4 linked regions of the Homo sapiens genome follow. The protein of the gene in region 1 purifies or fractionates together with the protein of each later gene. This does not show direct contact. Each region holds a gene or a part of one and is shown in the gene's direction. Other genes may lie near its edges.

The links.
Region 2: the proteins of RTBDN (region 1) and TSEN2 purify together in Homo sapiens (affinity purification with mass spectrometry; 3 studies listed by BioGRID and IntAct, with this or other methods). This does not show direct contact.
Region 3: the proteins of RTBDN (region 1) and COL6A1 purify together in Homo sapiens (affinity purification with mass spectrometry; 3 studies listed by BioGRID and IntAct, with this or other methods). This does not show direct contact.
Region 4: the proteins of RTBDN (region 1) and DDX19B purify together in Homo sapiens (affinity purification with mass spectrometry; 2 studies listed by BioGRID and IntAct, with this or other methods). This does not show direct contact.

What each region holds. Positions count from the first base shown.
Region 1 is NC_000019.10:12,824,973-12,831,596, reverse strand, and holds the end of RTBDN (retbindin isoform 1 precursor), read left to right. Parts: intron 1-917; exon of another isoform or gene 918-985; intron 986-1,168; exon of another isoform or gene 1,169-1,315; intron 1,316-1,599; coding exon of another isoform or gene 1,600-1,617; coding exon 1,618-1,786; intron 1,787-2,643; coding exon 2,644-2,728; intron 2,729-2,829; coding exon 2,830-2,940; intron 2,941-4,704; exon of another isoform or gene 4,705-4,725; coding exon 4,726-4,822; intron 4,823-4,930; coding exon of another isoform or gene 4,931-4,990; exon of another isoform or gene 4,991-5,663; coding exon 5,664-5,891; 3' UTR 5,892-6,115; downstream 6,116-6,624.
Region 2 is NC_000003.12:12,480,505-12,487,495, forward strand, and holds the start of TSEN2 (tRNA-splicing endonuclease subunit Sen2), read left to right. Parts: upstream 1-3,975; 5' UTR 3,976-4,376; exon of another isoform or gene 4,377-4,687; intron 4,688-6,991.
Region 3 is NC_000021.9:45,991,744-45,998,769, forward strand, and holds part of COL6A1 (collagen alpha-1(VI) chain precursor), read left to right. Parts: intron 1-266; coding exon 267-329; intron 330-420; coding exon 421-474; intron 475-619; coding exon 620-655; intron 656-1,004; coding exon 1,005-1,067; intron 1,068-2,423; coding exon 2,424-2,486; intron 2,487-5,677; coding exon 5,678-5,740; intron 5,741-5,956; coding exon 5,957-6,019; intron 6,020-6,377; coding exon 6,378-6,428; intron 6,429-6,654; coding exon 6,655-6,690; intron 6,691-7,026. UniProt on the Homo sapiens protein: Collagen VI acts as a cell-binding protein.
Region 4 is NC_000016.10:70,309,174-70,316,199, forward strand, and holds part of DDX19B (ATP-dependent RNA helicase DDX19B), read left to right. Parts: intron 1-3,435; coding exon 3,436-3,484; intron 3,485-5,728; coding exon 5,729-5,782; intron 5,783-6,466; exon of another isoform or gene 6,467-6,795; coding exon 6,796-6,931; exon of another isoform or gene 6,932-6,969; intron 6,970-7,026. UniProt on the Homo sapiens protein: ATP-dependent RNA helicase involved in mRNA export from the nucleus.

The sequences.
Region 1 (6,624 bases):
ACTGCTGAGATTACAAGCATGTGCCACCATGCCCAGCTATTTTTGATTATTTTTAGTAGAGATGGGGTTTCACCACGTTGGCCAGCCTGGTTTCAAACTCCTGGGCTCAAACGATCCTTCTACTTCAGCTTCCCAATGTGCTGGGATTACAGGTGTGAACCACCATGCCTGGCTGAAATTTTCATGTCTTGTTCACTACTGCATCCCCAGAATCTAGCACACAGTAGGTGCTCAATAAATGTTTGTTGAATGAATGGATGAGTTAAAGGAGTGTTCACAAGCAACACACATTCACAGAAACTTCAGAAGGACACATAATGTGTGCACACAAACACATCCTGCTCAGCACATGACATTTCTTTGTTCATTCATGGTCAACCTTCATGGTCAAAAACCTTTATCCACTGACTTCCAACATTTTTGCAGGGACACTAACCCAATGCTACATTTCCCCTTCTCACATTTATTAAGATCCTGTTTTATTCAACTGCAAACACATTGCTTGGGACACACAATCCTCCCCCAGATTCTGAACGTATACACACACACACACACACACACACACACACACACACACACAACCACTCCACCAAGAAACACACATAAACATAACCTCATACAACAAAAACACACATACATGCTCAACACACACACAGCCACACAAACAAAAGACACAGGTGCCTGGGAACACACACAGGCTATAGGCCACACAAACACACCTTCCTCACACACATACACACACACACACACACACACACTCCCCACATATATAGATACAGAGCTTAAGCCACAAGCTGAACATAAAAACAAACACAAGGATATATACACACCAGCCCCAAGTCGGCCAGCCTTTGGTCAGCTGGAGTGTGGGCAGGACGGTGGGAGGTCCCGCCCCTGCATTAAGCCACGCCCCTTTCAGCAGCCAGTTTCCTGGACTGGATCCTGAGGTGTCTTAGCGGCCTCTAGACCCCAATCCAGCCAACAGGTGAGGGGCTGAATGCGGGGAGGCGGGAAGGGGACAGTCTTGTCTCCACAGACCGCTAGCTGTCCCTGCCTCGGGGCTTTGGGCCCCAGTGACAGAACCTGAGCCCTGCCACACCAGCCTTGGTCCCAAAGGTCCAGCTCTGGGTGGCCCCTAAGCCGATTGTGGGCCGAGAGAAGGTGACCCAGAGAAGGGCCGGCAGGGAGCGAGAGAGGGAGGAGGGAGGCCGCATAGAAGAGAGGGAGGAATTACTGAACAGGAGAGGGGGATTGGAAGACCTAGGGAGGTCCCCTTCATTCTGAGAAAAGAAGGGGTCTCTTGAAGACTAAAAAGGTGGGAGATCCTGCTGGATGGGAGGAGGGCCACTGTGGTCTAAGCTTGGTTGGGGTGGCACTGAAGGGACATAGAGGACATGGTTCTGATGGGAGGGGGGCTCCTAGGTTGGAGGCAGGCCCTGATGGTCTCCTGGGATTTGAACGTCCTTGGCCACTGCCCCAGCCTCCTCCTCAGCTGCACTTTCCCTACTCTGCCTGGCACTGCTTCTTGGGTATGCACTGGGTGGGTGCCACCCTAAGCTCACAGAAAGGGATGGCTGAACCCCACCCTATGCCTGCCAGCTCTTATCTCAGGTGGACATGGACTGCAGGGTCCACATGCGACCCATCGGCCTGACGTGGGTGCTGCAACTGACCTTGGCATGGATCCTGCTAGAAGCCTGTGGAGGGAGCCGCCCACTCCAAGCCAGGTCCCAGCAACACCATGGGCTGGCAGCTGATCTGGGCAAAGGCAAGCTGCACCTGGCAGGTGAGCACCCCAGACCCTGCCTCACCACCAACACCCAGAAACCCACACCTACCCTGCCATGACAATGTTAGAATTTCCTTATGAGAGGGGCCTAGCATGGCCACCAAGGTGGGAGGCACGGATAGTGCTGAAGAATGGTGGATAAGAATTAGACTGCCTGGGTTCAAATCCCAACTCTGCCACTTTGTAGCTGTGTGATCCTGAGGAAGTCATTTAACCTCTCTGGGTCTCACATGGACCCCCAAAAAGAGAGAAATAACAAATATACCTCGCAGAGCTGTTGTTAAGATTAAGCATATAAGCATATGAGCAGGGCTCGGTGGCTCACGCCTATAATCCCAGCACTTTGGGAGGCTGCAGTGGGCAGATCATTTGAGGTCAGGAGTTTGAGACCAGCCTGGCCAGCATGGTGAAACCCCTGTCTCTACTAATAATACAAAAATTAGCTGGACGAGGTGGCATGCGCCTGAAATCCCAGCTACTTGGGAGGCTTAGGCACGAGAATTGTTTGAACCTGGGAGGTGGAGGTTGCAGTGAGCCAAGATCACGCCACTGCACTCCAGCCTGGGTGACAGAGTGAGGCCCTGTCTCAAAAGAAAAAAAGAAAAAAAAAAAAGGAAAAGGATTAAGTATATGTGTCACTACCAGGCACATGACAAGTAAGTTGATTATTATAAACAAGAAATGATTATTACTACTTGAAGCTGCATTTGCATTCCAAAGGAAGGGTCTTAAGTTATGGGTTTGTGAGGATTGATGTAATTGTTGTCTCCCCTGTCCAGGGGATCCCCAGGCCTCAGTTCCCAAACCTTACCTGAATATCCAAGACCCTAGCTCACAGGGTTCCCCTTTGCCAGGACCTTGTTGTCCCTCAGAGATGGACACAACAGAGACATCGGGCCCTGGAAACCATCCAGAACGCTGTGGAGTGCCGAGCCCTGAGTGAGTACAGCACCCTCCACCGTTTTCTCGCGTACTTTGCCCATTGCCCAGGAACTCCCTCGGGTCCTGACCCATCCGACCCTATCTCTCCCAACGTCCAGATGCGAATCCTTCCTGGAACACCTCCAACGTGCCCTTCGCAGTCGCTTCCGCCTGCGGCTATTGGGGGTACGCCAGGCACAGCCGCTCTGCGAGGAGCTCTGCCAGGCCTGGTAGGAGACGCGGGGGCAAGGGGCGTGGGTTGTGACTTGGGCGGGGAAGAGGGCGGAGCCTGCAGTTTGCTTGGCCTTCTGTGTAAAGGGGAGTGGCCTCCAACAGGGCCAAGGTTTAAGAGATGCAGCTTAATGTTTAGAGCCCAGGTAGATAGGGGCGAGGCATGAGAAGCCCCCAGCTTTTAAGATACCTGCCATATGGCAATGTGGCTTTTCATAGCCCTGCGATTTCTTTTCTTTTCTTTCTTTCTTTTTTTTTTTGAGATGGAGTCTCACTGTGTCACCTAGGCTGGAGTGCAGTGGTGCAATCTCGGCTCACTGCAACCTCCACTTCCCGGGTTCAAGCGATTCTCCTGCCTCACCCTCCTGAGTAGCTGTGGTTACAGGCGCACACCACCATGCCCGGCTAATTTTTGTATTTTTAGTAGAGACGAGGTTTCACTATGTTGGTCAGGCTGGTCTCAGACTCCTGACCTCGTGATCCGCCCGCCTCGGCCTCCCAAAGTGCTGGGATTACAGGCGTGAGCCACCGTGCCCGGCCTTTTTTTCTTTTTTTTTTTTTTGAGATGGAGTTTTGCTCTTGTCGCCCAGGCTGGAGTGCAGTGACACGATCTCAGCTCACTGCAACCTCAGCCTCCTGGGTTCAAGTGATTCTCCCGCCTCAGCATCCCTAGTAGCTGAGATTACATGCTTCCGCCACCACGCCCGGCTAAATTTTGTATTTTTAGTAGAGACGGTGTTTCACCGTGTTGGCCAAGCTGGTCTCAAACTCCTGACCTAGGTGGTCCGCCTGCCTTGGCCTCTCGAAGTGCTGGGATTACAGGGGTGAGCCACCATGCCCAGCCAGGCCCTGAGATTTCTTAAGGAGTGAGTCCTCTTGATTGAAAAGATAAGGTAAAAGGGTGGGTGCCTGTAATCTCAGTCGTTTGAGAGGTCAAGGCAGGAGGATTGGTTGAGGCCAGGAGTTCAAGATCAGCCTGGGGAACATGGCAAGACCCAGTCTCAACAAAAAATTTAAAAATTAATTAGACATGGGCCGGACGTAGTGGCTCATGCTTGTAATCCCAGCACTTTGGGAGGCCAAGGTGGGCAGATCCCCTGAGGTCAGGAGTTTGAGACAAGCTTGGCCAACGTGGTGAAACACCGTCTCTACTAAAAACACAAAAATGAGCCAGGCGTGGTGGTGGGCGCCTGTAATCCCAGCTACTCGGGAGGCTGAGGCAGGAGAATTGTTTGAACCTGGGAGGCAGAGGTTGCAGGAAGCAGAGATTGGGCCACTGCACTCCAGCCTGGGTAACAGAGCAGGACTCCATCTCAAAAAAAAAAAAAAAAAAAATTAATCGGACATGATGGTGCGCACCTATAGTCCCAGGTACTTGAGACACTGAGGTGGAAGGATTGCTCCAGCTTGGGAGGTCAAAGCTGCCATAAGCCATGCTTACGCCACTGCACTCCAGCTTGAGTCACAGAGCAAGACCCTGACTCAAAAATAAATAAAAGGAAAACGAAAGAGTGGGAAAATATGAGGGACTGGCCTGTAACTAATGGTCTGAGGTCTGTAGGGACAAGGCCAGTTGTGACGTGGCCCAGAGTATGGAAAGATCTGATAGAATATGGGGCAGGGTGAAATCTGGAGAGATGGGGTTAGTTAGCAGGGGAGTGGTTCTAAAAGGCGGGGCCTGGATCCGAGGTGGGGGCATATAGTGAACACAGTCTAGAAGAGCCAGAATCGCGCTGGAATGTAACTACAAAGGCTTTACCCACCTCTCCACTCGCCATCTCCAGGTTCGCCAACTGCGAAGATGATATCACCTGCGGCCCGACTTGGCTCCCACTCTCAGAAAAAAGGGGCTGTGAGCCCAGCTGCCTTACCTATGGACAGGTGAGCGTGGGGCAGAAGGTGAAGGGAAGAGACTGAGATCCTCCCCACCAAGTTATTTATTTATTTATTTATTTATTTCTGAGACGGAGTTTCATTCTTGTCACCCAGGCTGGAGTGCAGTGGCGCGATCTCAGCTCGATGCAACCTCCGCCTCCGGGGTTCAAGTGATTCTCCTGCCGCAACCTCCCGAATAGCTGGGATTTCAGGCGCATGCCACCATGCCCAGCTAATTTTTGTATTTTTAGTAGAGTCAGCGTTTCACCATGTTGGCCAGGCTGGTTTCGAACTCCTGACCTCAGGTGATCCGCCCACCTCGGCCTCCCAAAGTGTTGGGATTACAGGTGTGAGCCACCGCCCCCGGCCCCCACCAAGTTCTTTCTTACCGTGTCTAGACCCCAGAGACCGGATTGGTACTCCCCAGGTCCCTGCTCCCACCCTTCCCTAGCCCAACCTCCTACTGGGTTGTGCCCTTTGACCCCAAAAGCTCTCGAAGTCCAGATTTGCCCTTCCCAAGAAACCATTCCTGCTCTGGGTCCATCCACATTTTACCCTGGAGGACCCAGAAGCCCAGTCACTCTCTACAAAACCCCAGCCTTGATACAGACCTCTCTGCGCGCCCCCCAACTGCCCCAACCCTGATTCATCCCGCTAGGGCCCAGTAAGAACATTCACCCTCCCCAAGGACCTGCCCCCACTCACGTTCCGCACATAGACTCCCAGGCCGCACGCTCCGGCTCTGACCCCAATCCCTAAGGAATTTACACATTTTTCCCTTCCCGAGGCCACGCCCCCCACGTCTCTGGACTCCGCCCACTAGGGCCTTAACTCCACTTTTTCCTAGACCTTCGCAGACGGGACGGACCTTTGTCGCTCGGCTCTGGGCCACGCCCTACCGGTGGCTGCTCCTGGAGCCCGTCACTGCTTCAACATCTCCATCTCCGCGGTACCTCGTCCCAGACCAGGACGACGGGGCCGGGAAGCTCCCTCCCGGCGTTCCCGCAGCCCTCGCACCTCCATCCTGGACGCTGCGGGCAGCGGGAGTGGCAGTGGAAGCGGCAGCGGCCCCTAGCGGACGCGTGGCCCTGAGTTGGGGGAGCGACCCTTCCCCCAGCCCCGCCCCTCAGGACACCCAGAACCCCACCCCTCGTCCTCTCGGCCTTCTGTAATAGTTTTGAGATGTCTGTCCCTCCTCCCTGGAGCTCCAGAGACCCACCCCTCTCCAGGTTATCCCAGAAATGACCCAACTCTCTCACTTTTCCCTCTCCCCTTTGAATAAAGTCGCCAGCTAGAGCACGTGACGAGTGTGGCTGCTTCTTGGGGAAATAAGTCGGAAGGAGAATTGCCAGAAAGTAACGGATGTCTCACGTCTAATCCTCAGACCCTAGAAGTAGTGACTGACTCATACTAGAGTGTAAATGATAGATAGCCTGTGCCCTAGAGCAGTCAACATAACTGGGAATACCCAGTTGTTGGAAATGGAGAGGGGGTCAGAACAGGGGCTGACAAGGGCAGGAGGGGTTCCTTCCCACTGTGTGCCACCAGGGCTGCCAAGAAGCTGCCTAACTTGTATAGGCCTCAAGACACACTTCAAGGCCAGGTGCAGAGGCTCATGCCTGTAATCCCAGCAATTTGAGAGGCTGAGGTGGTTGGATTGCTTGAGCCCAGGAGTTCAAGACCAGGCTTCGCAATACGGTGAGAACCTGTCTCCACAAAAAAAAAAAGAGAGAGAGAGAAAGGAAGAAAAAAGAAAAAGAAAAAGAATATTTTTAATTGGCCCAGTGTAGTGACCCGTGCCTGTATTC
Region 2 (6,991 bases), on another chromosome or scaffold:
GTTTTTGTTTGTTTTGTTTCTTTGTTTTTTTTTTTTTTTTTTTTTTGAGACAGTATCACTCTGTCGCCCAGGCTGGAGTGTAGTGGCGCAATCTCCGCTCACTGTAACCTCTGCCTCCTGGGTTCGAGTGATTCTCCTGTCTCAGCTTCCCGAATAGCTGGGATTACAGGCGCATCACCATGCCCAGCTAATTTTTATATATTTTTTTTAGTAGAGACGGGGTTTTGCCATGTTGGCCAGGCTGGTCTTGAACTCCCACCCTCAGGTGATCAACCCACCTCGGCCTCCCAGAGTTCTGGGATTACAGGCATAAGTCACCGCGCCCGGCCTGTCATGTTTTGTTAATGCATTGCCCTCCTGTATCCAGCATGACAGATTAAAAGAGCATAAGCCCCGTAGATCCGTATCCTCATCTGGCCTTCACTACTTCCTAGCAATGACACCATGGGCATGTGCGGTAACCTTGGCTGCAGAAGAGAGGTAAGAACACCAATCTCACAGCCCTGTTATGAGAATTAAATAAGATCATGGATGCAAAAGTGGCTGGCACATAGTAAGTGCCCAATAAATTGTCACTAGGGTGGCCAGATAAAATGTGAGGCACCCAGATTAACTTGAATTTCAGATAAACTTTTTTCTTAAGTATATCCCAAATATTACTTGGAGGTTCTGGGCACATTTCACCGATAACTGTTCATTGTGTTAGATGTGCTAGTGATACTGGGGATATGTTGATATAGTCCATCCTCCCTACTCTTGGATTCTGTATTTACAAACTCACCTAGTTGCTAAAACTTATTGGTAACATCACAATCAATACTTCACTGTCACAGTCATCTGCAGATGTGTGCATGCACAGAATACCAAAAAATTTGAGTCACACAGTGTGCACATTCCCAGCTGCAGGTGAACAAGGAGACTCTGCCTTCTTGTTTCAGCTCTCATACCATAAATAAGTATGCTTTTTTGAGCTCTAGTTTGTGCCATGTTTTTCACATTTTTGTGCTTTTTGTTGGTGATTTAACTGTTTAAAATGGCCCCAAGTGGAGTGCTGAAGTGCTGTCTGGTGTTCCCCACCCAAGAAATGTGCCTTATTGGAGAGAATAGGTGTGTTAGATAAGCCTCCTTTAGGCAGGAGTTATAGTGCTGTTGGCTGCGAGTTCAGTGTTGATGAATCAACATATGTAAGGTGTCTTTAAACAGAAACACATGAAGTGAGGTTATATATTGACCAGTTGATGAAAATGCTGTGACCAGAGACTCACAGACACCTAACCTTGTATCTTGTATTTCTCCTGGAAACATGGTTCAGTATTTACTAATTCAGTGTTTGTGGCAACTTTATAGAACAGAATTACCTCAAATAATGAGAATGAACTACACAGTTGATATATGTGTGTGTGTGTGTGTGTGTCTGCGTATATATATATATATATATGTAGATGCAGATGTATTGTAATAAAATTAAGTCCTTATCTATTAGAGATACCTACTGAAATATCATGGATGAAGTTATATCATGTCTGGGATTGTTTTAAAATACTCCAGCAAGGAGATAAAAGTGTGTATATCGAGAATGCAAAAGAAATGAGATACCAAAGGTTGAAGGTTGTAGAAGCGATTTTTTATTTTTGAGACAGAGTTTTTACTCTTGTTGCCTAGGCTGGAGGGCAATGGTGCAATCCCGACTCACCACAACCTCCACCTCCCCGGTTCAAGCAATTCTCTTGCCTCAGCCTCCAGGGTAGCTGGGATTATAGGCATGCACCACCATGTCCAGCTAATTTTGTATTTTTAGTAGAGATGGGGTTTCTCCATGTTGGTCAGGCTGGTCTCGAACTCCCAACCTCAGGTGATCCACCCGCCTCAGCCTCCCAAAGTGCTGGGATTACAGGCATGAGCCACCGTGCCCGGCCAGAAGTGATGATTTATTGGACTGTTTTCTCTACTTTTGTGTTGTATGTTTGAAAATAACCATATCAAAGGGTTTAAAATGCACTTGAGAAAGTCTTGGGGAAAATTTCTTTCTTTTTTAAAATTTACAGATTTTTTTTCTTTTTTTAATTTCTTTTTTTATGTTTTTGGGAGGGGAATTTGAGATCCCATTATCAGCAAACCCCAAATCCTTCCACGAGCTGGGATGGGATTTAAGAGACCTGGCTCTAGTCTCAGCCCCACCTCAGACCTGCTCGGTTATCTCTGACAACTCACAGTGCCACTGGAACTGTTTTCTTATCAGTTAAATAAGGAAGTTTAACTGGACAACCTCTGAATCCCTTTCATTGTTAAAGCCCTCTAATTCTAAAACCAGTATTTCTTAAATTGGCATGTTCTGGTCGGATATTACAGCCTCTCTTCAGCTGTCTCTCCCCTGCCCAATCCATCCTGTTACCATATCCTGTGACTCTTGCCAATTTTCTCCCTTTCTTTTGCAACATTCTTACCACAAAGCTCTTTGATTTTGGTTTATCTAAAACCTGAACTCCCTAGCCTAGCAGTGAAGGTCCTTGCAGCAGAGGACCCACTGAATGCTGCGACATGATCTCACTCTACCAAGAGCAAGCCCACAGTGCAGTTCAAAAAGGGCCAGGCAGGATGCAGTGGCTCAAGCCTGTAATCCCAGCACTTTGGGAGGCCGAGGCGGGAGGATCGCTTGAGGTCAGGAGTTTGAGACCAGCCTGGCCAACGTGGTGAAACCCCGTTTCTACTAAAAATATAACAATCAGCCGGGCGTGGTGGCAGGCGCCTGTAATCCGAGCTACTCGGGAGGCTGAGGCAGGAGAATCACCTGAACCTGGGAGGCAGAGATTGCAGTGAGGTAAGTGAGCTGAGATGGTGCCACTGCATTCCAGCCTGGGCGACAGAGCCAGGCTCCGTCTCAAAAAATAAAAAGGGCCAGAAAAACAGGGACAACACATGCCATGCCAGACTACTGCAGAGCACAGAGGCAAGTCACCCAAGCAGGTCTGGGAAGGCAAGAAGTCTCCTGGAAGAGGTGATATTTGAGCTGAGACCTAAAGGCTGACCAGGAATTACTGCAGCTAACAGAGGGGAGGGAACATAGAGGCAACAGCATGCGTGAAGGAATGGAGGCAAGAACATTGGCAGAAGTCCAAAATTCAACATCCATCATCACATCTAGCACCATGAATCTCTCCAGCAGTATTTGCCACACTTCCTTGCCATCCTCCTTTGCCTCCTGCTTAGTCTGTGTGGTGGAACTCCTGTGATTCATATTTGGGAAAGTATATATTGGACTCCCCACAGGGCTCCTTTAAAATAACCAGGTCAGGAGAAACTTACACTTCCTATTGCACTCCAGTTTTGCTCATCTCCCGTAATTCTGATGGCCCATTTTTCAGTAAACTCAAGCTCAGAAAGGTTGTCAGTCATTCAAGCTCACGCAGCCAGTGAGGGGGGAAAATGGGGATGCAGAGCAGGTGGACCTGCCGCCTATTGTCCCTTAACTGCACAGGCAGTCTGGGCACACAGAGGCTTCTGGCCAGGTGTCTGCCAGAGAAAACGTCCTTGCAAGTTCCCCGCATGCTGCAGCGTACACAGGTGCGCTGCTGTGATCCTCTTTCTACATTGAGAAAGATGAGATCAGTTTCCTCAGGGCCATTTAATAAAGTCCTGTCGGTCGCCTCAAACATCCCATCCACCGAGGGCCGAAGATTCTAGGTCTCTCCCACCTCCCACGTGACTATGTGACATTTGACGGGTAACTGCATCTCATCTGTAAAATGCGTCTTGCAGGATCGTTCTGGCTTCCGTACAATCCTGCAGAGAGCAGCAAAGCGCGCACGCAGCCTCCGCCTCATACTCCGCAGTGGCAGAGCTGGCGCACAGAACACCCGCCAGCCGGCCGTGCGCAGGCGCACTCCGCCAAGTCCCGACGGGAGCTCTGCGGCTGCGCACTCGGCTGGCTTTGCGGCCGCACTGCTTGACGGCAGCGGTGTCCGCCCCACGGCCGGCGTTGCCGGGGTAACGGCGAGCGCGTGGGGCCAAGAAAGGTAAGGGCCCTGGGCGAGGAAAGCGCGGCCCTTTCCGAGTTTGGTGTTTTGCAGCGAAAGGAAATCTCGCTCTTCCGAAAGTCCTCCAGGGCGAGAGAGGAAAGGGCCTAGGTACTGTGCTGGGGTCGCACAGCCGGCCGAGACAGTGCCGGGACGGGGAGCCAGGCTTCCGAGTGCGCCCGGTCACTGACTCCTCCGCGCTTTCCTCGTGCGCCTGCAGCCCTTGGTTCTTGGAAACGCCGGCGCCTTGTTCAGGGCTGGTGGGGCTGGGGCGCAAGGTGCAGCTGACAATGCCCGAGAGGAGCCGCAGCCTCTGGTGGAGTTCGGTCGGGTGTGGGGGTAGTCAAGGAAAGAAGCAAAGGGGTAAGACAGGGAGTTAGGAATTGGCGGGGCCCCTAACGCTGTTGGGGTGCGCAGTTTATTTTATTTGCAGCTGTCGTCTGGTGAGCGCTTTCCACGTGGTAGGCCCCGAACGAAACGCCTTCTGCAAAATTATGCATTTAATCCTGACAACAACTTTCAAAGGCTGGTCATCTGTTTATATGGCTTATTCTCAGGTTCTAACTTGAAAGCTCCCCAGAGGCAGGATTGTTTACCTTGTGCCTTTCATCCTTGCCTCCCTAAGCCCAGGAGGTGCGCAGATGGAGCTTGAAGCGTGTTTTGGTTGGGAGAAGGTGAGATTTGCTGGGTAGGAGGTTTTTTAACCAGGTTTGTTTGGCACCTAGTCCAGGAAGGTTGGAAAATTAAATGGAGCCACCTCTCCCTTTTTTGTTTTTCTAATAGACATTTACCATCACCTAAGAGGTGTTAGCCTGTGTGCTCGAGGGAAGAATAAGAAACAGACTCTGCTTTTAATAGAAAGTAAGAATATGCAGCTCTGGAGTCAGGTTGCGCAGGTTGGGGAAATAAGAAGTAAAGATTTCTCAGGGGTGCGCCCGGCCCCTCCGAGTCACTTTCCACATCTGTACAATGGAAATAAAAATAGTCTTTACCTCCGGGGGCTACTGGGATTAAGTGAATTTGAATAGACCTTGCTGTTACCAGTGGTTAGCTATATGTTAAAATCAGCTGGGTCCACCCAGGAAATTCTGATGTAATTGATTGCAGGTGAGGCCTGGGCATGAGGAGTTAAGGGTAGGTAAGCTTGAGGGCCACTGTGTGATGTACCACTCCCAGGTTTAATTTTCTTAATCTGCATTTTTCAATCATCATTCTAAATAACCTGCAGTGACTCCAATTCCAAACCAACCTTTGCATCCCAAACCTCTTGACAACTGACCCAGTCTTTCCTATATGTTTTTGTGCACCTCAGGCACCGCTCTTCTTTCATATCTGTGGAATGAGGATAGTACAGTCAGCTCTCGCTATCAGGTTCCGAATCTGTGGATTCAACCAATGTTGCATCAAAAATATTTGGAAAAAGAAATTTAAAAATATATATATATAACAATTATTTAGTATTTACATTGTATTAGGTATTCTAAGTAATCTAGAGAAGACTTAAAGTAGATGGGAGGATGGGCATAAGTTACATGCAAATACTACATTTTATTTAAGGGACTTGAGCTGCGGATTTTGGTAGGGGGTGAGTCCTGGAACCAGTCCTTCTGTGGATACCAAGGGATGACTATAGTACCCACATGTGCAGCACATGCAGTGAGTGCCTCTGGCATCTGGTACCTACCTATGACAGTTTCCTCTTCTTATTTTACTCACATCCCACCTCTTACAGCATGCTGTTCTGCCGCGACACTAAAGAACCTTCTTGAATATCCATTGCAGATATGGGGAATGGTAAATGCAGTCTTTTCTCCTCTGCTTTGCCTTTCGAGTTCAGCACAGGAGGACTCTTCCATGAAACTAGAGATCATCTGATTTGTCCTCTTGAATTTTTCCCCCTGGGGAAGTGAGCTCTACCTTCCCTGAGGGTTTCTTTCTATCTTTTCTAGAAGCTTCACGCTGGTATCTGTGAAGTCATTCTTGCAGGACATGGCCTGGGGAATGTCTTTACTTCTGAATTTTTTAAAATAGCTTTATTGAGATACCATATAATTCTGTAAAAGTCACCCTTCTGAAATGTACGAGTCAGTGGTCTTCGTATTCGCGGAGTTATGTAACCATTACCATCACTACAATCTAATTTTAAAACATTTTCGTCACCCTCCAAAATAAACCTCCTGTCTTATTAGCAGTCGCCCCCCCATTTCCCACTTTTCCCTGTCTCTGGCAACTGGTAATCTGTCTCTATGGATTTGTCTATTCCGGAAACTTTATCTTAATTGTCTCGTGGTCTTTTGTGTCTGACTTCTTTTAGCATAATGCTTTCAGGTGTTGAAGAATGTATCCGAACTTCATTCCTTTTCTATGGCTAAGTATTTGATTATATGGATAGACCACATTTTGTTGATCTGGTCAACTATTGATGGACATTTGGATGGCTTCCACTTTGATGCTATTATGAATAATACTGTTGTGAACATTCACATACAAATTTTTCCATGAACATATGTTTTCATTTCTCTTAGGTCTATACCTAGGGGTGGAGTTGCTGGATCATGTCGTAACTATGTGTTTGACATTTTGAGGAACTGCCAGACTCCTCCAGTCCTGTTCGATTTGAAGATGAAACTGGGCTTAGAGAAAGTGGGTTGTGCAAGGTCACACAATAATAATGGCGGCTTTGCATGTCTGGAAGGCCTACTGCGAGCCAAATTCCTGAGGGGTGTGCAGCCACATGAGCAAGAGTAACACAAGAACTTGGATTATGAGGGGTGTTTTGTCGCAGGGACCCTTCCATCCCACACACCTGGGTTGGAGTACAGAGTTCTTTCGATCAAGTGTCACAGCTAAATCTTGCCTTTTTTAGATGTGACAGCAGTCTGAGAGGGAAAAACGCTGAACAAATGAGGCAGACTAAAATACAACTCTTATTTGTTGAGAGAATTTATTAGAACTTCTTGAAGGTGGCCATTAAATCT
Region 3 (7,026 bases), on another chromosome or scaffold:
TGTGCCTTCTCTAATGGGAACCAAATCCTGCCCCTTAGACAAGATGGCCCTTGGCTGGGCCTCACAGGGAACAAGGTTGGAGCATTCCAGGAGGTCTTTGTGCAGGGTTGTGGATGGCTGAGGGTGCTGGGGGGTCTGGGCTCAGACAGTGTTGGTCAGAGGGAGTGGCCTGAAGTATGGGTGAGAGGCCCTGGATGTGGCCTCTGATGGCTGCACCCCTGGTGCACACCCCTGCCAGCGTGTGTGACTCCCCCGGTCTTCCCCAGGGCGAGCCTGGAGCTGACGGGGAGGCGGGGAGACCAGGGAGCTCGGGACCATCTGGAGACGAGGTGAGGAGCTTCACAGCCCCCACACATGCCAGGTATGGGCCCAGGGAGGGTCAAGGAGATGGAGCGACCATTCAACCCTTGTTCCCCACAGGGCCAGCCGGGAGAGCCTGGGCCCCCCGGAGAGAAAGGAGAGGCGGGCGACGAGGTGAGTGAGGGCTCCTGACACCTTCCTGGGGAAGTGCATGGCCTCAGCTTCTGATCCTCTTTGCTCGGGGTCTACTCCACGTCCCTGAGACCAAATGCAGTGTGTCCACCAGACTAACGCCGGCGTCTGTTTCTCTTCATCCCAGGGGAACCCAGGACCTGACGGTGCCCCCGGGGAGCGGGTGAGTGGGGCAGGGGCAGCCTGCGCTGTTGGCCTCACCATGTAGCTGTGGACGTGGCCTCTGCGGCCCAGTCTGGCCCTCCCAGCACTGAGAGCCATGGCCTCCTGCCCAAGACAAATGGGTTTCTTCACCCACACGTCCAGGATGCCTCTTCCCACAGTCTCAGAGCGGGTGGGACCTGGGGAACCAGGAGATTCCGGCCTCTGCAACCGTGGGGCATGCGGTGGAGGGGTGGCCCCTCCCAGGGGTCCTGCTGGGGGAGTCAGTCCAGGCCAGGCCTCAAGCCCCACCCCAGCTGGGTGTGAGTTCCAGCAGCTGAGGCTTCTCCCCTCCATGTCTCTCCACTCAGGGTGGCCCTGGAGAGAGAGGACCACGGGGGACCCCAGGCACGCGGGGACCAAGAGGAGACCCTGTGAGTCACAGTTCCTGGAGCTGGGAACCACCCCAGGAAGGGGCAGGCGGAGGCTGGGGCTGGGTCAGGCCTCCAGAGCCACAGGACACATCATGAAGCCCCTGTGGCCCCTCAACGTGGCCAGCCCATCCCCACGCCGTCAGGGAGGGCAGCCCCTGAAGCCGGCGCCCAGCCATGTGCCTGATGCTGGGACCTGTTTCATGTGAAGGCGTTGCCCGTGGACCCGGTGCCCACTTTCCCACCAGGCGGCTTCCACGTTTCTGCATCCGAGCTTGGGTTCTTCTTTGGAATAATTTTCCTTAGTTAAAATTCCCAGCGTGAGGAAGTTGGGTCAGTACCCCAGACGGGAAGCTAGGCCTGCAGGGCGCCTGCCTGGGAAGGCTTGACATGGAAAACTCACCCCAGAGCCGAGATGCCGGCGGCCTCAGAGGCCACCCCCCACCTTCAGCTCCGTGGACCGTGGGCCTCGCTAGGCCACCCCACAGCCCAGCCTCAGGGTGCAGAAGCACAGGGCCCTTCTCTGTCCCTGTGACTTGCTGGGAAATCTGTGCTGGATGTGGGGCGGGGCAGCTGGCAGACTCCGGGCGTCTCAGTCCCATCCGGCTCAGGGAGAGCCAGGGCCTGGCGGGCAGAGTGAAGGGGAGAGAATGCCCTAGTGTGCCCAGCCGAGCTGCCAGGCCTCAGAGGCAGCGCCCCCGGGTGCCCCCTTGTCCGAGAATCAAGACATGCGACTGTCGTGTGCTGTGACAGACAGGCGGGGCTCCAGCAGGGCCAGAGAGCTGAGCCGGGGCCAGAGTCGCCGCCACCGAGGGATTTGGCTCCCCAGTGGGGGGTGGGGGATTTCTGACCTCCTCCCTGGGAGCTCCCCAGAAGCGCACAGCCCCCGTGGAGGGGTCGGGGGGACGTCAAAGCAGGGATCGTGTGACTTAGTGACTCAGACTGCCTTCTAGGCCCACTCCTCTGAGATCAGGATATGAGACTGACAGCCAGGCAGAGCCCAGAGGAAGGGCCAGCCACGCAGCTCCAGCTTCCCGGCGGGCCACAAGTCCATGGCTACAAACACTTGCCGGGTCCACGGAGCTTGCTGGAGAAGCAGGGATGCACGCAGGGACGCCTCTGGGGCCCCAGGAGGAGCTGCCGGCCTCCTGAATGAAGATAGCCATAGCCAGCCACGCCGATGGCCACGCACGTGGGCCGAGGAAACGCTTGGCGAGGCCAGGAAGGGGCTGTGCGGGGAGGGAAGGCCGGAACAGCCCAGTGACCACCTGGACAGCATGCTGTGGCTCCCAGCGTGCCCGGGCAGCCATCCTCCCCAAGGATGGCCCAGCTCCACACTCACGGCTCGTTTCTCTTCAGGGTGAAGCTGGCCCGCAGGGTGATCAGGGAAGAGAAGGCCCCGTTGGTGTCCCTGGAGACCCGGTAGGAAGCGCTGTGGGGTTGGGGGGCGTTGGCCAATTTGGGTTTTGGGGGTAGAAGTGCTCCAGCAGCTCACGCACTGGGGGTCTGTTCATTTCCGTTTGAGGGCCTCTGTGTTTCCGTAGATCTCGGGGGTGTCCCTGCGTGGGAGCCGGCTGCAGGGGGTGAGGCGCGGCCTGGGCCGGGCTGGTGTGGATTGTTGAGAGCAGGCCCAGCGCCCGGGGGCCTGACGCTGAGACGCTCAGCCCAGGTGGAGAAGCGCTGTCTGGGGGCCCATCCGGGGCAAGGGTGCCTCACAGTGAGGAAGAGGTGTTGGAGCCCCTGGGAGACACTGGGAGCTTGGTCAGCATCTGTTTTTCTGGGTCAGGAGCCAGGCATGACTGTGGCTGGAGGTCAACTGGGGAGTGTGAGGCTATGGAGGTTTCCAGAATCCCAGGGTGTCAGGATGAAAATGCACTTTCATCTCATTCTAAATTCCCTTCTCCGAGCCTCTGGAATCGCTGTGCACGCCGCACGGCTTTCTGTCTCTTCCCCCATTCTGATGACTGCCATGATGGTGGCTCCAGTGTGGTGTTGCCCGCAGGCTGGGCTGGGCCGTTGCATCCTCCCGGAGCTCACCTGCCCCACGGGGACAGGAAGGCCTCCACACGGTCACGCCCGGAGACAGCAAGTCTGTGCTCCCGAGCTTGTCTGCTTCTGTGGACAAATCGACCTTACGGCTCCATGTGCGCAGCTGCCCACACACCGAGCACAAGGCCAGACCCTGGGCACGGCAGCTGTCTCAGACGTCCAGCAAGATGGGGCCTCAGACCCAGGGAGATGGGAGAGGCCGTCCCAGTGCAAGTCACATTTGTATTTCTGTGCACGAGGTGAAATCGTGCTTTTGTGGTGCCAACGGGTGTTACACAGCTGTTAAAAATACCTGTGTCATAGATGAGGACCAGGGCAGGGCTTGGCAGGCGGGGTCTGGGCCGTTCGTCCACCTGGTCCTGCGTGCCGCTCACGGCAGGGGCAGAAAGGGCTCCCGACACCTTCCTGGGGAAGTGCACGGCCTCAGTCTCTGATCCTCTTTGCTCTTTGAGCTCCCGGGGCTCCAGCCCTGAGGATGATCTGACCTCCCATGTGGTCACCCAGGACAGGGCCAGGTGCAGGGCACAGTGCGTGGAAGAGGCCATGCAGCCAGTGGCAGATTGTGGGGAGGGGACGGCCCAGGGCCACGTTCCAGGCTTGGGAGGCTGCTCCAGACCTTGGTAGCTGAAAGTCTCAGTGGGAATGAGCGTTCAGAGGCCAGGACTTGCTCGGAGAATTCTAACCACACCCTGCCTGTTTTATATGTTCAGTTTTCAAAGTAATCAATAGCCACTATAAGAAAAAAACAAAGCCACTTTCAAAGGGTTGTGGTAAGAGGCAGTCCTGTGAGCAGGCCGGCTGCAGGGCCTCCAGGGCTGTGGGGCAGGCTGCACAGGGGCTGGTGGGTCCCATGCCTGGGGGTCTGGGAATAGTCTCTAGGCTGCTGTCCTGGAGGAGGTTTCCCCCAACGCCTGAGACCAGGGCACCATGTGACCCATGACTCACAGTTGCCTGGCTGAGGCAGGCACTTGTTCACCTGGAGCCTCCCTGGGGCCTTTCGGGGCCCGGGGGTGTGGATAGGTGGCTTTGGAGCCACATTTGTCCATCGGGACGTTGGGCTCCCAGCTGGCCTTCCGGGCTTTCCCTGCTCCCAGAACCTCCCTGCTCAGCCCTTGCCAGCCTTACCCCTCCCCTCCACCCTGCCCAGCATGGGGCTCTCCCTGTGTGGATGCCAGAAGCAGTTGGGCCCTCAGGGCTGGTCCCAGGAGGTGCCCCCAGTGAGGTGCTCTGCAGAAACTGCCCAGTCTGGCCTCCTGCTGTCTGTGGCACAGTCTGACTGTGTGTGGTGAGGTCCAGGCCTTCTGCCTCCCACTTACCTGGCCCAGGGCACAGAGACCTCCTTTCCATCCTTCCTCCTGGCCCCCTTTTCGTGTTCCCAAGGCAGGATCTCAGGGTACCAGACTAACCCCTGTTGAACCCCAAGTTTGGTGAGCTTCTGGACCTCCTTGAGGCCCGTGTGCAAAGTCCCCAGTCAAGTGTGCAGTCCTGACTGCTGGGGCGTTGACCACGAAGGGTGCAGGAGCTTCACAGCCAGGCCTGGGTGCTTGCACAGTCGGGGTAGAGAGAGCAATACACTAGATGCCTCCTGTCTGCCTGGTGGAGGCCACGGGGTCAGGATGGTGAATGGGCCAAGTCTGGTAGTGGGGAAGTTGTAAACATTTGAACCACCGGACAGGCCTCATCGGGAAGCATCAGCCTAACCACAGGCCAGGGACAGGCGTCTGAGCAGGCACAGGCCAGGGACAGGCGTCCGACCAGGCTCATGGCTGGGGCCAGGTGGGCCAGGTGGGCCAGGTGGGCCGGGCGATGTGTACACGGCTCCCTTCTTGGCTCAGCTGGGCGCGCTGGGAAGTGCTTGGGGTGCCTGGGCTAGACTCCGAAGGGCAGGGACTCGCCGCTGGAGTTGTCCACGGAGCAGGCCCTCAAAGGTGGGAGCTGGGGCCAGCTCTGGAAATAGACCCCCACAGGGTCCTCATGAGATGTGGGGGACCCAAGGAAGTCCAGCAGGCAGCCTCAGGTGCAGGTGGGGGCAGGGTGGTGTCCAGGCTCAGCCCACAGAGGGTCCTGCGGTTGGGGGTGGGCTAAGGGGACCAGGCCAGGCCCAAAGGGGACCATGAGGGAGGGCAGTCTGGGGCCACTCTGATAGGAGAAGGGGCAGGTGGTCTGCGGCCTGGGGACCTGTAGCCTCACCCCTCCGTGGGGACCTGAGGCACCAGCCGGGCACTCACCGAAGTCATCTGGGACAGGCTTCACCCTTCCGTGGGGGCCTGAGGCACCAGCCGGGCGCCCACCAAAGTCATCTGGGAGAGGCTTCACCCCTCCGTGGGGGCCTGAGGCACCAGCTGGGCGCCCACCGAAGGGCTTCAACACTTGTGCCCAGGCCCTTCGTGCAGGCCCTTCGTCAGACCCAAGAGTGGGCCTGGCTCTCCCCCTGCACTGATGGGACTGGGGCCAGAGCCTGGGGGCCCTGATGCCTCTTGGTCTGAGACCCTCAGCTTAGGGTCAGGGAGGGCTCAGGCTGGGTGAGGCCTGTGGTCCAACGTGCCATATCCATCTCTCTACAGGGCGAGGCTGGCCCTATCGGACCTAAAGGCTACCGAGGCGATGAGGGTCCCCCAGGGTCCGAGGTGAGTCCCACTCCCCACCCACACCCGCCCACCCAGGGGGGCCTGAGGATCCAGAACCCACTGTCTGCCCAGTGCTGGCCCCGTGCCCTCTGAGGACTCTATGGCCCTGGGTGTCCTGGCTCCCGATGGGACCTCTCCCGGCCCCAGGAGGGCCCTGCTTCCCTCCAAGGTCACCATGCTAAGCCTGCTCCCCTCACGCCTCCTCTTCCTCCTCAGGGTGCCAGAGGAGCCCCAGGACCTGCCGGACCCCCTGGAGACCCGGGGCTGATGGGTGAAAGGGTGAGTGTCCAACAGCTCGGGCCCTAGGGCGGAGGCCTGGCCGCCAGAGGCCCTGGGAAGCCCCAGCCCCGCACTGTGGAGCTGCCTGGGGTCCCTGACCGGGCCGGGAGTGCCCGCAGCATCACTGGCTCCTGGCCACAGTCGGCACCTGAGCCAGAGGCCGCCTCGGCAGGGCCCCTCCTGCCCCGAGATCCGGGTCCCAGGGTCCACGGGGACCAGCAGGGTGGCCCCAGGGGAGGGAGCCGGCTTCTGGGCTGACGGAGGGGCCCTGCGGGTGAGGTGCTCCCGGGCCTGTGCCAGCCAGTGGGTATCCCAGGCCAGGCCGATTCGCACGGTGACGGCTACTCTGCTCCCCCAGGGAGAAGACGGCCCCGCTGGAAATGGCACCGAGGGCTTCCCCGGCTTCCCCGTAAGTGTCCGGAGGCTGAGCCCACAGGAACATGCCCAAGCTGCCTGCGGCGCCCTCTTTAGTGGACTGGGCACTCTTGGGTGGGCGGGCTGGCCCCAGGACCGCCGGCTGGCCCAGGAATTCCATGGCCGGGATTCTGTCAGCTCAGGCCCTTCCGCTGTGCGCCCCTCACAGCCTCCCCTCTCAAATCAGAACCCGGTATCACTGCCCTGCTTTTCCATGACAGGGGTATCCGGGCAACAGGGGCGCTCCCGGGATAAACGTGAGTACGCCCCCTCCTCCATCTGGCTGTGGGCACACAAACATTCACAGTCACAGGGACACGCACGTGTGAACACACATGTGCACACAGGCTCCCGAGCAAACACACGGGGTACACAGGCACCCACGGCTGCCCCACTGTCTGTGGCCACAGCCCCAGTTGGCATCGGCTCCTGCAGGCCCTGCGAGGCTCCCACTGTGGTGTGGCCTGTGGGTCTCCTCACGGCCCTGACTGCCCGGTGACCGATCTCCCCTCGGTGCGCAGGGCAGGCCCAGCCCCAGAGGCCGCCCCACGGCTCTCTAGGCCACTCCGGGACCCAGTTTCTCCAGCCCAGGA
Region 4 (7,026 bases), on another chromosome or scaffold:
ACCAGAAACTTCTTGTCCATTTCCATGAATAGAAATGGGAGGCTGGGCGCGGTGGCTTATGCCTGTAATCCCAGCACTTCGGGAGGCCGAGGCGGGCAGATCACGAGGTCAGGAGATCGAGACCATCCTGGCTAACACGGTGAAACCCCGTCTCTACTAAAAATATAAAAAGTTAGTCGGGCATGGTGGCAGGCGCCTGTAGTCCCAGCTACTCCGGAGGCTGAGGCAGGAGAATGGCGTGAACCTGGGAGGCAGAGCTTGCAGTGAGCCAAGATCACGCCACTGCACTTCAGCCTGGGCGACAGAGCGAGACTCCATCTCAAAAAACAAAACAAACAAACAAACAAAAAGAAATGGGGCTCCTGGCTGGGTGCAGTGGCTTACGCCTGTAATCCCAGCACTTTGGGAGGCCGAGGCGGGTGGATCACGAGGTCGAGAGTTCGAGACCAGCCTGACCAACATAGTGAAACCCCGTCTCTACTAAAAATTCAAAAATTAGCTGTGCGTAGTTGCACACGCCTGTAATCCCAGCTACTTGGGAGGCTGGGGTAGGAGAATTGCTTGAACCCAGGAGGCGGAGGTTGCAGTGAGCCAAGATCGTACCACTGCATTCTAGCCTGGGCGACAGGGCAAGACTCCGTCTCAAAAAAAAAAAAAAAAAAAAAGAGAAATAGAAATGGGGCTCCTCCATTCTCAACAAACCACCAATTAAAACATTTTTTTGTTCTCTCCTCTCTACCCTCCTTCCCCTTTCGCCTGTTCTTGGACTTAGAGGGACAACAGAAATGCGGCCTAATGCGTAGTTCACACTTATAATTCTAGCACTTTGGGAGGCTGAGGCAGGAGGATCGCTTGAGCCCAGGAGCTCAAGACCAGCCTGAGCAACACAGTAAGATCCCAACTCTACAATAAAAGATTAGCTGGGCAGGCTGGGCGCAGTGGCTCATGCCTGTAATCCCAGCACTTTAGGAGGCCAAGGTGGGCGGATCATGAGGTCAAGAGATTGAGACCATCCTGGCCAATGTGGTGAAACCCTGTCTCTATTAAAAATACAAAAATTAGCTGGGCATGGTGGTGCATGCCTGTAGTCTCAGCTACTTGGGAGGCTGAAGCAGGAGAATCGTTTGAACCCAGGAGGCGGAGGTTGCAGTGATCTGAGATAACACCACTGCACTCCATCCTGGCAACAGAGCAAGACTCCGCCTCAAAAAAAAAAAATTAGCTGGACATGGTGGTGAGTGCCTGTAGTCTCAGCTACTTGGGAGGCTAAGGCAGGAGGATTGCCTGAGCCTTAGGAGGTTGAGGCTTCAATGAGCCATGATCATGCCACTGCACCACTCCAGCCTGGCCAACAGAGTGAGACCTCGTCTGCAGAAAAAAAAGAAAGAACCATTAGGTTGTGATTTTCATTTTCTTTTTACTAGATGATGTCTTAGGCCCTGCTTGATATTTTATGATTAGGGTTGGCTTTAGCTTGAAAGGTTACTTACTCACGCCAGACTTTCCATCTATCTAATCCCTGTGCTGGGGTCCAAGACTTACAGATGCTTTCTGACCTTTAAAAAAGTCTTTTTTGGCCAGGTGCGGTGGCTCATGCCTGTAATCCCAGCACTTTGGGAGGCCGAGGCAGGGAGATCACGAGGTCAGGAGATTGAGAACATCCTGGCTAACATGATGAAACCCTGCCTCTACTAAAAATACAAAAAAATTAGCTGGGGGTGGTAGCGGACGCCTGTAGTCCCAGCTACTCCGGAGGCTGAGGCAGGAGAATGGCATGAACCCGGGAGGCGGAGCTTACAGTGAGCTGAGATCAGGCCACTGCACTCCAGCCTGGGCAACAGAGCGAGACTCTGTCTCAAAAAAAAAAAAAAGGCTTTTTTGTTTTGTTTTGTTTTTAATAAAAATGTACGACTAGAAAGGCCGGGCGTGGCAGCTCATATCTGTAATCCCAGCACTTTGGGAGGCTGAGGCAGGCGGATCACGAGGTCAGGAGATCAAGACCATCCTGGCTAACACCGTGAAACCCCATCTCTTAAAAAAAAAGAAAATACAAAAAATTAGCCGGGCGTGGTGGCGGGCGCCTGTAGTCTCAGCTGCTCGGGAGGCTGAGGCAGTAGAATGGCGTGAACCCGGAAGGCAGAGCTTGCAGTGAGCTGAGATCGCGCCCCTACACTCCAGTCCAGGTGACAGAGCAAGACTCTGTCTCAAAAAACAAACAAACAAAAAATTTACGACTAGAGCACTTACTTTGCTCTGTACTACATCCAAAGGCCAAAAATAGAAATATGCTACTCTGGGCACATTTCCTGTGGGGTAGCCCTGCTCCTCAAGGAGCAGTAGAAAACGAAATAGGCCCTGTCAGGAAGGTATTTGCATTCTAATAGAGGAGATAAGACCTGCTAGGATATCCCTAATATACAGTATTTGATCAAAGTCTTAGTAATTATTCTTTGAAATGTCTCTTTCCTTTCTATTTCCACTTCAGCCCAGTGGGTATTTTAATTACACAGTGTGCCACAATGCTTCAGGCTGTTCCCAACTACAGTATCAGACACCAGCAAAAGGTGACTTGAATGTGAGGCTGCACATCAGCATACTGTGGTCTTACGGCTCTAACGTATCCTGCAGTATGACTGATTCCTACCCACAGATGCTTTTCTTTTCTTTTCTTTTCTTTTTTTTTTTGTGAGACGGAGTTTCACTCTGTTGCCAGGCTGGGGTGTAGTGGCGTGATCTTGGCTCACTGCAACCTCCGCCTCCTGGGTTCAAGCGATTCTCCTGCCTCAGCCTCCCAAGTAGCTGGCACTACAGGCATGCACCGCCACGCCCAGCTAATTTTTGTATTTTTGGTAGAGACGGGGTTTCACCATGTTGGCCAGGATGGTCTCGATCTCTTGACCTCGTGATCTGCCTGCCTGAGCCTCCCAAAGTGTTGGGATTACAGGCGCGAGCCACCGCACCTGGCTTTACAGATGCTTTTCATCACAGTCCTCCCTTCCCAGTGTTCTCCAAAGTATGACTGCATTTTTCAAAATCTCTTTAAATTTCCTCTTGTTTGAAATATGATTTGGAATGCAGCGATTCCCCCCCACACACAAAAGAAATATGAGAGAATGACAACTCTAATGATATTCTACAAAGAGAGAAAGTTTATAATCAGGGCATTAAGCAAACTCACAAATTACAATTCTCTCACAGAATTTTAAGTAGAAGGTACAGATTTGGAGCATTTTTTTCCACCGATGTATTTACGGGAAATTTTGTTTATTCTCATCAGACATTTAGTAAACGGAACAACCCAATGAATTGGTCCTAATGAATATACCTTGAGAATGGCTATTTTATCCCCAGCTTCATTAGGGAGGCTCTGTTGATTCCAAATCTTTTTAAGTGCTTTTCCTGACACTTTCCCCCTCCCCCATATTCTCCATTTAGTTGAGCAACTTGCATCTTAAGGAAGAGAAAATCAAACCAGATACCAATGGTAAGTAACTAATAGCTAGTTTGAAAACAAATGTGATTTCCTTCAGTATTTTTGTTTTGGCATAACAACTGTCTGGAAAAAAATTTGTATTTGTACCAGGCAGGGCATTGGCAGATACTGGTACCATTTGATTTGTAAATCAACAAACTGGATTGTATGACCAAAGTGTTTTTATTTATTTTTTTGTTTCTGTTTACTTTTTAAGAGACAGGGTCTTGCTCTGTTGCCCAGGCTGGAGTGCAGTGGTTCAATCATGGTTCACTGGAGCCTCAACCTCCCAGACTCAAGTGATCCTCCACCTCAGCCTCCTGAGTAGCTGGGACTACAGGCACAACCCACTACGCCCAACTAATTTTTATTTTTTATTTTTTATTTTTTTGAGACAGAGTCTCGCTCTGTTGCCCAGGCTGGAGTGCAGTGGCTCGATCTCGGCTCACTGTAAGCTCCACCTCCCGGCTTCACACCATTCTCCTGCCTCAGCCTCCCGGGTAGCTGGGACTACAGGCACCTGCCACCACGCCTGGCTAATGTTTTGTATTTTTAGTAGAGATGGGGTTTCACTGTGTTAGCCAGGATGGTCTCAATCTCCTGACCTCATGATCCACCGGCCTTGGCCTCCCAAAGTGCTGGGATTATAGGTGTGAGCCACTGTGCCCAGGTATTTTTGTTTTTTTATAGAGATGAGGACTCCCTGTGTTGCCCAGGTTGGTTTCTAACTCCTAGGCTCAAGCAGTCCTCCCGCCTCAGCCTCCCAAAGTGCTGGGATTACAGGAGTGAGATATTACACCTGGTTTCAAAGTGTTTTTAATACAAGAATGAGGATTGCACACTGATAGCAAGGGTGTGGGGGGAACAAAGAATGAGGCTACTTAAGTGGGACTAATTACTAACCATCGGACTACATTGACAAAGACTAATTTTTTTCTTAATGTTCTCAATTTGGGATGAGATAGACAAAGTATGAGCAATCTGACAGTTTACCTATCCTAATTATTCTGAAATCATATTTATCCAAAGTTAAGATTTCCATTAAATTATTGTTGATGTACTTAATATTACAGGAAGGAAATGTAACATTTGCCTTTCTCAAAATTCACTTAAATCTTTTTTGTATGATTTTATATAACCACAGTATCATTCGACTATAAATTTATATTAATCAATTTATAGGCCGGGTGTGGTGGCTCACACCTGTAATCCCAGCACTTTGGGAAGCCAAGGCTGGCGGATAACCTGAGGTCAGGAGTTTGAAACCAGCCTGACTAACATGGTGAAACCCCATCTCTACTAAAAATACAAACATTTGCCAGGTGTGGTGGTGCACCCCTGTAATCCCAGCTACTCAGGATACTGAAACAGTGGAATCTCTTGAACCTGGGAGGCAGAGGTTGCAGTGAGCTGAGATCGCACCACTGCACTCCAGGCTGGGTAAGAGTGAGACTGCATCTCAAAAAAAGAAAAAAAAAATTTATATGCATGAATTTTTTTTGTTGGTCTTACTGCTCATTTGTTATATACATGAATTTTAATGGCATTATTGTGTTCACCTATTGATAAAATACGATTTGCATAGATATTCCTCTGTTGAGCATCAAGGTGGTTTCTGATCACTAATTGCTCTAATCTTTCTATAATATTTAAGAAGTATTGATTCAATGAGGGAAATAACAGGTTTTGAGGTACGGAGAGGAGACCTAGAATAGGAAAGAATATGAGCAACAGAGGCCGGGCGCGGTAGCTCACGCCTGTAATCCCAGCACTTTGGGAGGCCAAGGCAGGCGGATCACGAGGTCAAGAGATCAAGACCAGCCTGGCTAACATGGTGAAACCCTGTCTCTACTAAAAATACAAAAAAAATTAGCTGGGCGTGGTGGCGGGTGCCTGTAATCCCAGCTACTCGGGAGGCTGAGGCAAGAGAATGGCGTGAACCTGGGAGGCAGAGCTTGTAGTGAGTTGAGATCGCACCACTGCACTCCAGCCTGGGCGACAGAGCGAGACTCCATCTCAAAAATAAATAAATAATAAAATAAATATCTATCTATATATATATATATGTGAGCAACAGTGTTTTACACCTTTGTTTATTTAGGGACAATAAAATGTTTTTATCAGCGGCTCGGTTTCCTCATTTATTTTTTGCTCCCCAGGCCTTTACAAAAACTTCTAGTGTCATAGAATTTGAATTGTCTCAACTGTTGGGTATGGGATGCGATTTTGAATGATGGCCACTTTGTGTCTATAAAGGTGCTGTTGTCAAGACCAATGCCAATGCAGAGAAGACAGATGAAGAAGAGAAAGGTAACACAGCCGTGGAGCTTTATATAATAACAAGCTTCTACATTCTAAGAAAGTGGATTGTTATGAGGCTTCATTTTTATACCCAGTTTGGCTTGACTTTAATAGGCGATACAGTGCTAGCATAAAGGTTCAATATAGGGGCCGGGCACGGTGGCTTACACCTGTAATCCCAGCACTTTGGGAGGCCGAGGTGGGCAGATCACGAGGTCAGGAGATCGAGACCATCCTGGCTAACACGGTGAAAACCCGTCTCCACTAAAAATACAAAAAAAAAAAAAAAAATTAGCCGGGCATGGTGGCAGACGCCTGTAGTCCCAGCTACTTGGGATGCTGAGGCAGAAGAATGGCATGAACCCGGGAAGCAGAGCTTGCCATGAGCCGAGATCGAGCCACTGCACTCTAGCCTGGGCGAAAGAGCGAGACTCTGTCTCAAAAAAAAAAAAAAAAAAAAGTTCAATATAAATAGTCAGTAGGTGAAGGAGTTCTAATGGTTTACGTTTAGAGAAATTTTACATTTAACAACTGAACAGTTGAATAGGGCATTATAAAAAATTTTCAGTTGCATCTCTATTGTCCAGTAAAATTAAGCTTAATGTTATTTTGACACATTTGACATGGATGACGAGACCAACTTGTCCAATATTAAGGTACAGACTTTGTTAATTCCTGTTTTTTTTTTTATTGTTGTGATTGCTACATTAATTACTTTAGGTTTATATATAGTACAAATTGGGGAGTAAATATGTGGGTCTGGATAGGAGGAATAGATAACTGCAGGAAAAGAGGGCTGTTAGAATAGAGTCTGGAAAAGAATATGAGGCCTAAATGGGTGATGTATCATAACTTTTTTCTTTAATAAAACTATTTTAATTTATAAGTCAAAACTATGACGTACCTTGAATTTGAATGTTCAGTACATTATTATTTAAAATACAAATGGCAGTTGAATTAGAGTAAACGCCTGGTAGGTTTCAAGGACTTTTTAAAATTCTTTGCTTTCTTTTTCCTGACAGAGGACAGAGCTGCCCAGTCCTTACTCAACAAGCTGATCAGAAGCAACCTTGTTGATAACACAAACCAAGTGGAAGTCCTGCAGCGGGATCCAAACTCCCCTCTGTACTCGGTGAAGTCTTTTGAAGAGCTTCGGCTGTGAGTATTTATTCACCTTCTGACTCTTCCCCTTTGCACTGAAATAGAGATCCTAGGTCTGTTATAGATATCTTTTGACCACAACAGAGCAGTTT